Regions from separate parts of the Homo sapiens genome. Here region 1 is linked to region 2. A link means that fine-mapping ties the variant in region 2 to the expression of a gene that starts in the linked region. Tissue or cell type: visceral fat. Region 2 holds a variant in brackets; the other region holds the start of a gene. All regions are shown on one strand. Distances are from middle to middle.

Evidence for each region. PIP is the estimated chance that this variant, and not a neighbour inherited with it, causes the effect.
Region 1: it holds the start of ALG6, and the variant in region 2 is fine-mapped to the expression of ALG6 in visceral fat (GTEx, PIP above 0.99).

What each region holds. Positions count from the first base shown.
Region 1 is chr1:63,364,806-63,370,007 of GRCh38, forward strand. ALG6 (ALG6 alpha-1,3-glucosyltransferase) reads left to right here and starts at 2,822. Exons shown (of 15, transcript NM_013339.4): 1 at 2,822-2,882. RefSeq lists enhancers at 2,282-2,421, 3,282-3,391 and a silencer at 2,622-3,101.
Region 2 is chr1:63,507,428-63,512,427 of GRCh38, forward strand. It overlaps ITGB3BP (integrin subunit beta 3 binding protein), which reads right to left. Exons shown (of 9, transcript NM_014288.5): 2 at 1,101-1,143. LOC102724319 (a long non-coding RNA gene) reads left to right here. Exons shown (of 3, transcript XR_426701.4): 2 at 1-180. Among named protein-coding and RNA genes, the nearest start is that of ITGB3BP, 13 kb to the right of the region's middle. The variant C/T (reference allele first, on the strand shown) is at 2,197.

The DNA.
Region 1 (5,202 bases), 140 kb before region 2:
CTTTACAATTTTGCTATGGCTTATCCTTTTTGCTTATAGTAAATGCTATCATTCAAAATGCATTTTCTGAACATCTGTTATGTAAAGGCACTGGATATTCACATGTGAAAGATGATACCTATTGAAGGTAAAGAGCAGGAGAAGGTATATAGATGGCAGTGGTGAGACAATTCAGCTATGAGTTAGTGACTGTGATGTCTCTTCCGCTATTTATTCATGAACATTTTGAGCATTAACTTTTTGTTAAATACTGGGTCAGAAGCTGTTGGGTTGAGAAACAGGAAGGAGAGATTGATACCAACTTCCATCACTTTAAGATGTATACTTTTTACATATTAATATTTCTGAAATTATATGTTTTACAGTAATTACTAGCTTAAATGGTAGCATTGTTTTCTTCCTCAGTGGTACATAAAATAATGGTGCTTTTTACAAGTGGTGGAACTTTAGATTCAATAAAGTATGATTTTTGGTCTGCCAAACATGGTTCTTGTTCACCAGATGCTTAATATTTATGATCCTGCAATGTAATGGATTTCTCCCTACATTTGTAACCATGTAACATCCTTCACCAATGTGCCTTTCTCCTTTTGGCCTGAGATAATGCATTTATTCAAGTATGGTTGTTTATTTTCTCTCTATACTGTCTCCATCATTATTCAGCAAATGAAACACTTTCATCTCTCTATCTTCACCCCAATTTCTTTCCTGGGCTCTGATTCATAACTGACACCTGAGTATTACAACTTTCTTGTCTTTATGTTACCGTGAACTCAATACAATGAACCATCTTTCCCTCCAAGCCAGATTATTCTCCAGGCTTCCCAAGATCTATCAGTTCTTGGGAACTGTAATGCACACTTGAAACCTTGGGAGCCATCCTTGATTCTTCCCTCTCCTTTGTTTCACTTGTACATATCTAGTATGCTATTAAGACCTGTACACGAGGCCAGGTGCAGCAGCTCACGCCTGTAATCCCAGCACTTTGGGAGGCCGAGGCAGGCAGATCACCTGAGGTCAGGAGTTCGAGACTAGCCTGACCAACACAGAGAAACCCTATGTCTACTAAACATACAAAATTAGCCAGGTGTGGTGGTGCATGCCTGTAATCCCAGCTACTCGGGAGGCTGAGGCAGGAGAATTGCTTGAACCCGGGAGGTGGAGGTTGTGGTGAGCCGAGATCGTGCCATTGCTCCCCAGCCTGGGCAACAAGAGAACAAGAGCGAAACTGCGTCTCAGAAAAAAAAAAAAAAGACCTGTACATGTTTCTTCTTGCATTGATCTCTCCCTTTGCAGTTCCACTATTGCCATCTCAGTCCAAGCCCTTGTCTAATCATGCGTGGACTGCTATAGTCTCCCTCTGATTCATCTGATCCATTTTCACCACTTTAAGTTTTCTCTAACACTGTAACTGTACTGTATACTTGACTCCCTGCTAAAAGTCATTTAATAGCCCCTTACTGATCACTGGATACATTCCAGACACCATAGCCTGGTATTCAAGGCTCTCTACAATTACCAGTCCTTTCCAGCTTCATCACCCACCACCTAAACTAGAGGAAATGTTCTACACTTTTCAGCTGCCACAATATTTGGCTTGAACCATTTCCTTTGTCTAGATTCTTACTCTCATTCTCTGGGCTTATCCAGCCAGGCTTTCCTTCAAAGCTCAGCTGACTCCTCCAGGAAAAGCATTTCCTGATGGTTTGCAGTTTACAGTGAACCCTCTTCTCCTAACTCCTACAGTGCTTAGTGCATATGTAAGTAATGTAACATTTAGTATGTGTTTCCTTCTATAGCTTTTTATCCTTTTATGCATAAAAATGTCTTTCCAATGAGAATTAAATGCCTTGAGGGCAGGGACCTGCCATATTTCTCCATATTCCCAGTGCTGATGGTCTTTTAGATATAATCATATTTTAGACCTGGAAGTTCACCTAGCCCTACTGATTTCTTTCACAGTTGAAGAAACTGAGGCCCAGAGAGAAGTTATTCAGACTCAGTAGAAAGCCATAGTCCTAGCCAAATATTTGCTAACACTTACAAATTATAGGGGTTGGCTTACGTAGAATGGCAAGATTCAGAAGTGGGGAATGAGGGCACTCTCTGAACAAAGGAAGGCAAGTAAAAATCATCACAGCCGTCCATGCGTGATTGGACAGAAGCCTAGACTGAGATGGAAATAGTGGAACTGGAAAGGAAGGGATCAATGCAAAAGGAAAAGTGTGCAGGTCTTACTAACTTACTAGATAGGTATTTTTGGCAAGTTTGGGACCAGGTGATTCAAGCTGCCCGCTGGGGCACGTGTAGTGGCTACTCGAGGGCAGGGCTGTCCTTTTGCACAACGCACAGGCTCTCGCAAATGGTTGGATGTTCAATGTTTCTTACTTTAGGGGGCTGCCCAGTCTTCTTCTTCGCAGGCATGTGGCTAGAAGAAAGTGAAGCAGGTTGGCTTTCTGGCTCCTCGAGGGCACAGGCCCAGAGGTGGTGAGGACCGGCCAAGGCTCTCTGCTCAGTGCAGCAAGCCAGGGCCCGCCCCTGACAGGAATCCGTTGGCTAAGCAGCCGCTCCGGCCTTGGCCACGATCCCAGGAAAGAAGAGCAAGGGGCTTTCCACCTGCCCCTAGCCTAACCCGGGGCTGGGGACCTCTCGGGTTCCATCGGCTCTTGCCCCGCCTCCTAAGCCGGCCGCCTCCTGTCCAGGCCAGGTTGCCCGCCCCTCCCCTCACGCTCGACGGGCTCGCTCCCGCACCGGGCGCGCGGGTGGTGCGCGGGCACACGGAGGCGGAAGGCCGGAGGGGCAGTCCGCCGCGGGGGCGAGCGCGCATGCGCCTTCCTGGGACCCACGGCAGGCGCGAATCCCAGCGGCCGGCGGGCGGCGGGGTAAGAGCATGGGATCCCGGAGGTTCCGGACCCCAGGCCAGTGTGGGGAGGTGCCGGGGGCTCGGACGCGCCACGAGCCGGCGCAGAGCTGGCGACCCGTCTCCCAGCTCCGCTCCACTCCCAGGGACGCGACGCGAGGCCTCCCCAGCCCTTCCTGCAGGGTCGCTTGTGGGTCGGGTGAGGGGACGCGGTGATAGTGGTGGCACTTGCAGGCTGGGGCGGTCCTGGCACCCTTGTCCTTGCGGTTCTGAGGGCCTGGCCCTCAAGAGGAGGGGCGGAGAAACGCGAGAAGGGATCCCTTTCGCCCCATATACACGCCCGGGATAGCTGCACTCCCCGGTGTTGTGTCCACTGCGGTGGAAGGACCTTTCAGACTAAAAGGAGCAAAGTCGGTTCTGGGATGGGGACGGCGGGCTTGGCATTTGTCGAGATGCACCGTCAGGGCAAAGGAGGACGAAAAGCGCATCTACTGCCTGCCTAGCAACTTCGTGGCCAGTGGATGGGTTAGAAAATTACTGTTTTCTGATTTACAGGTGGAAAAAGTCGCAAATAACCCTTTTTCTGGTTTAAGCAGAAGAGAGTCGTTAAAAGCCTCGCATAATATCTTTAACCACACAGGGCTCAGTAAAATTAGGGTACCTCCCCGCTTCGTACACACAGACGCACACAGCTCCATTCAGCAAATACTTCTTGGGTACCTGCCTTCTGCTAACACTGTTCTACAAGTGGGGAACAGAGAGCAACGACTAAGACAGGAGGATCCCTGCTCACAGGGAGCCTTTAGTCAACACATCCAAGTAATTTCCTTTTACACTTTTTTTTTTTTTAATTGAGACAGAGTCTTGCTCTGTCGCCCAGGCTGGAGTGCAGTGGCACGATCTTGGCTCACTGCAACCTCTGCCTCCCGGGTTCGAGCGATTTTCCTGCCTCAGCCTCACGAGTAGCTGGGATTACAGGAACGCACCACCACGCCCAGCTAATTTTTGTATTTTTAGTAGAGATGGGGTTTCACCATGTTGACCAGGCTGGTCTCGAACTCCTGACCTCAGGTGATCCACCTGCCTCGGCCTCCCAAAGTGCTGGGATTACAGGGGTGAACCACTGCGCCCAGCCCCTTTTATGCTTTTTAAATTGGAATATACCATATAGAAAAATACTGTACGCAAATTATAAGTTGTAACTTGTTAATTTATCCTAAAGTCAACACATTTCCTAACCACTACTCAAATCAAGAAGGAAGATTCACAGCATTTCAGAACACCTCTCTGGGCACCCCTCCCAACCACCATCCCTTCTTTCCTCCCCAAAGGTAACCTCTTTCCTGATTTTTAACACCATAGATTAGTTTTGCCTATTTATGAACCTTTCATGGAACCATATGATATGTATTCTTTGGTGTCCAGCATTTATACTGAAAATTATGTGTGTGAGATTGCACCATGTCATGTGAAAATACAAATCCTGTTAGTGAAAAGAATTAGGAAGCAAATTGAAGGTAATGATACAAACAGTAAGGGGAGGAAGCTTTAGTAGGATAGTCAGGGATGATCTTTCTGAGGGGATGATTTGAGATTTGGCATCAATGACAAAAGATTAGCCATTCCAATCAGTTCTGGAGTTATCCCGTGATGTTTTTATTTTAAATAAGAAAATAATTAGGGCCGGGTGCAGTGGCTCACGCCTGTAATCCCAGCACTTTGGGAGACCAAGGAGGGTGGATCACCTGAGGTCAGGAGTTCAAGATCAGCCTGGCCAATCTGGTGAAACCCCGTCTCTACTAACAATACAAAAATTAGCCAGGCGTGGTGGTGGGTGCCTGTAATCCCAACTACCTGGGAGGCTGAGGGAAGACAATCGCTTGAACCCAGGAGGCAGAGGTTGCGGTGAGCCGATATTGTGCCATTGTACTCCAGCCTGGGCAACAAGAGCAAAGCTCCATCTCAAAAAAAAAGAAAAAAAAACAAATAAAATAAAATAATTTTAGATCATTAGGTGGAATGTACCAATTTTGCCCTAAATTTTTTAGTTGATTTATTATATTTTCTGAATATATTTAAAGTGTATCCTGTGGTTAAAATGGTCCAACATTTTTCAAAGAGAAGAGGAAAATGTCAATTTTGTCGATTTGCTTTTTATTTTTTTTTGTTTGAGATGGAGTTTCGCTCTTGTTGCCCAGGCTGGAGTGCAATGGTGCGATCTCGGCTCACTGCAACCTTCACCTCCTGGGTTGAAGCGATTCTCCTGCCTCAGCCTTCCAAATAGCTGGGATCACAGGCGAGCGCCACCATACCTGGCTAATTTTGTATTTTTAGTAGAGATG
Region 2 (5,000 bases):
ACGGTCATTCTTTTCCATTTAAACAATGTTACCATCTCCCAAAGAACAGCTTTGGGGTAGGAAAGAACAGTATTTCATTTCAAGCTGGACTACTCATCTACCAAAAAACCATTCTGACCAAAGAAACAGATGCAGAATTACAGTCACAGCTGCATTCTGCACAGAACAAGTTGGATAATGGTATTCTAAATTGCTAATTATACTGTTAATGATTTTTTAAGTGTCATTGCAGTACTTTGCCACCTTTGTTTAAAAATTTTTAAAAAGCATGTAGCAAGTTTTCTAAATGGTAAATTTCTGTTTTGTTAAATACCAGCGTGTCTTCCAAAGAAAAATTCCATATAAAACCCATTTATTGAAATGGCATTCATATGTGAATTTGGAGGAGCCTACTTATTGACTAGCTATTTGTTTTAATTTACTTTCTCACCAATTTACCTGCATTTAAGATTACTGAGGTCATAAGTATCTCAGTATTAGTGTTTCTATCTAGATCCATAGTTGGTATGAAAAGATAATAAACTAACATATGTCATGATATGCTGGCACTGGGAATGTGCTACAACTCAATTTACAAAAAGTAATGGCAACAGTACAATTTAATTTTCATTGTGATAACTGTGGTGCAATTTATTACGGTGTTAGTATTATGCTGTTTAATCCATGCCAGCATAGCTGAGGAAGGTAATTACATTTTTGATATAAAAATGCTACTAATGTTTTCATTTCATTTTAGCAGATTATAGTATGCAGATTAAAAGTACTGCCATTGTCCCATATTGTTTCTTGTACATTTAAGTGGCAGACTATTTTTTTCCACAAATAGTGAATTAATTTCTACTAAATTATTTCATTAAGGTTTTTAAATAATTAATTTGCTTCTTAACTGAACACCTCAAGCTGGCCAGGAACTTCCACATATTAGATTCACAAAAACTAAAATATCTTATATGCAGAAAATGGTGTACCAATCACAATTATATCACACTGTGATATAATTAAAATTATCAAGATAATTTTAATATTTAACGAGATAAATCAGTAGTTAAAAACTGAAAACACAATCTTATTCAATGACAAACTTTTAAGCAAATACTTACATTTTCTTCTAACAGACCATCCAACTTCAGTGATCTTTTAACACTACAAACAAAAAATTTAAAGAAATTTTAGATTTGACACGCTTTATTTAAAGTAGCCCAATAATTAAGGGAAGATATATAAACAAAGATTCTTAGTTCTACCAACCAATTTTTATATTATGTATTAAAGCAGAATACCATATGAAGAAAGCAATTATTTATGATGACAGGTTTGATTCTAATTGCATATCTCTAAATGGGATCATAATTAAATATTTAAATGAGTTTCTTTAAAAAATATATGCAGTTATATATACAAGGACTACCGTACAATTTAAACATCAGTCCTATATTATAAAAACTCTTATAAAAGTTAGTATGTTTGTCTGCTTTAAAATACCACTATTACAATATCATATATAAGAGCAAAATAATTTATACACTTTCAGTGGAGATGTTGAAAGTACAGTACAGAAACAGTGCACTAGGTGTTAAAGGTATGAGCATGGTGAAAAAAAGTTTTGCACATTATTCTAGCTTTAAACATGATTCAGTGCAACCAGACTATGACTTAACTGAGGAACAGATGCTCTATGTCTTTATAAGTCCCCAATCCATAAGAAACTATTTTTTGTTTCCTTCACTAAACTGATTCAGGAATATGCCAGGCTCTCTGTGTGCAAAATCTGTTCTGCTAAACTGGATGCCCAGCTGTTGGTGACAATGCTTAGAAAGGGAAGCTGAATATTTATAATACTTTATTTCATACAGCTGTCTTCTAAAGAGCAGTCATCAACATTTTATTCAATGCAGACTAAATGTTCAAAGGAGAAAAAGGTCAATATAAATTAAAACTAGTTTTTTCAGTGACAAATGCAGTGTTAAAAGTATCTTCCTGATTCTTGAGAAATAGAAATAGAATTAAAATATTAAAGAATTAGAGCATAAAGCAAAAAGATTGTACTATGTTATATTACAGAAATCCCCCAAAAGTTTGTATTGATCTTAGAAAATGACTATTCGTAAGTAACTATTGATTTACAAAGGACAGGAATAAGAAAAAATAGAAGAGATGGTCAATCTAAGAAAATCATTGAACAGTAAATATACAGTA[C/T]AGAAATTTAATCTATCTAAAAGATTATTTTGCTACTATATCCACATTACCCTATCACAACATTATTTCTTGAGATTAAACTGGTTTAAAGAATTATTTATGCTTTTAGAAATCTACTTAATATCAATTTAATCTGATTTCCCAATGAGGCAAGAAGAAAACAGAGGTACAAACAAACTAAAATGCAGATAATTTTTTAAAATTTATATTTAGCTTTGGAATACATATTGCCCTATTTGGGTATGTAAGATGTTCTGGTATTTATAACGCTTCAAAAATAGAAATTACACCAGGCGTGGTGGCTCGTGCCTGTAATCTCAGTACTTTGGAAGGCTGAGGTGGGTGGATCACCTGACGTCAGGAGTTCGAGACCAGCCTAACATGGTGAAACCCTGTCTGTACTAAAAATACAAAATATTAGCCTAGCGTGGTGGTGCGTGCCTGTAATCCCAACTACTCCCAAGGCTGAGGCAGGAGAATCGCTTGAACGCGGGAAGCAGATGTTGCAGTGAACGGAAATCGTGCCATTGCACTCTAGCCTGGGCAACGGGAGCAAAACTGTCTCAAAAAAAAAAGAAAAAGAAAATAGAAATTAAAAAACTAAAGTTAAACAGTACAGCATTTCTTATCCTTTGTTTCTAAATGCTATTAAGATGCAATAGTATCTTTTAGAAGGAGACATATTCCATCCTGATATTAACTGTTCAAAATATTGCTTTGTTATCAATGGTTAATTCTTAGACAAAGTAACTAAATGTTTGCTTTTAAAAAGTTTACAGATTAGGCCCCAGGTTGATCTAAGAAACCCAAGGAAATACGTAAAAAATAGTAAACAAGAAAGTAAGCTGAGTTAAAATAGGCTGTCATCTCCCACTTTATGTTTGGTGACAATCTAAAAATATTATTTACTGAGGGTAGTGTACTATTCAGATAATTCGGACATCTAATAACCAAAAGTTATAATACTTAAAAGAATCCTTAAAAGATATAATAGACAAGACTAGAAGAAATCTAAGAAATCACTTAGTTCAGCCAATAGGGAAAACAGTTTGTGCAACTTGCCTATTGTCACACATCTTGAGGGAGAGAAACTCAGATCTCAGGCCCTGTGCATAATAAATCTTTATGGAATTGAGGGGAAGGGAATTAAAGAAGGGAAGAGAAGAGCAAACCCACTACAGAGTTTATGACCATCTATTCTTAATATTATATTAGAACTGGGCCCAACCACTCTTTTACAACACAATGACGAGAATATACTAAATTGATTACTTTACTGTTAGTAGGAATAGAAGAGACGGATGAAACATATGAAGGAAGAATAGGTAAAATTTGATTAGATATATGGGATATTTTCCTAAAATATTTACTCTTTTGTTACCAGTATTAGCTAACAAAAGTGATATCTATCTGGTAGTTCTGTAAAGTTATAAGCAGCTCCTGTGGCTACTATCTTGGTTTAAAAAAGTGGGCACACAAAATTGGACAAAGGACTTGAATATACACTTCTCCAAAGTGATATACTAATGACCAATAAGCACATGAAAAGATGCTCAACATCTCTAATCATTAGGGAAATGCAAATCAGAACCACAATGAAATATTACTTCACAACCTATTAGGATGGCTACTATTAAAAAACCAAACAAAACAAAAAAAACAAACAGAAAATAAGTGTTGGTGAGGATGTAGAGAAACTAGAATCCCTGTGTACTGCTGGTGGGAATGTAAAATGGTTTAGCAGCTATGGAAAACAGTATGGCAGTTCCTCAAAGAATTAAAAATAGAATTACCATATGATTCCATGATTCCACTTCCAAAAATAATTGAAAGCTGGGACACAAACAGATATTTGTACACCAATGTTCACAGCAGCATTGCTCACAATAGCCAAAAGGTAGAAAAGCAACCCAAATATCCACTGACAGATGAACCGATAAACAAAATGTGATATATATATAAAACAAAATCTTATTCAGCTTTAAAAAAAAGAAATGAAATTTGACATGTGCTACAACATGGATGAACCTTGAAGACATTATGCTAAGTAAAATAAGCCAGTCACAAAAGGACAAATATTGTATTATTCCACTCATAGGAGAGTAGTCAAGTTCATGGAGACAAAAAATAGAATGGTGGTTGCCAGGGGCTAGAGGGAGTGAGGAATGGGAAATTACTGTTTAATGGGTACAGACTTTCAGTTTTACAAGATGAAAAAAAATTCTAGAAATGAATGGTGGTGATGGTTGCACAACAAGGTAAACATTCTTAATGTCACTGAATTGGACACCTAAAAAATGATTAAAATAGTAAATTTTGTTATATATAATTTAGCACAATTTAAAAATAGATAATTTTTTTAAAGGATATCTACTTATTGTGTCCTAATTACCTCCCTTTTACAGGTAACCTCTCTGTGGGTAACTTCTAACTTCCAACTTACCCAAATTTCCACCTATGCCCGTAATTTACAAGTTATATTATATTTCTAGGTATACTAGGTTTAGATTCACTGGGATCAAAATTCTGGTTGCTACCAGAAATACTGCTGTTGAGAATTTTAAAAAGATAGAAAGCATTTGACATGCAATTTTATAGAGAGAGTAACTATGTTTGTATAATTATATTATTCTCTAAGACTGACCTCTTTTCTATTTAGCTTAACATATGGTAGTATCCTGAATAGGATTCTCTGGTTCATCAGAACAGAAAAAGCAGATGAGTTTTATTACACAATGTTATTGACTAACATCAGTTACAGTATTAAAGAAATTATTCTAGGAAAAAAAAACCCTATCATTTGA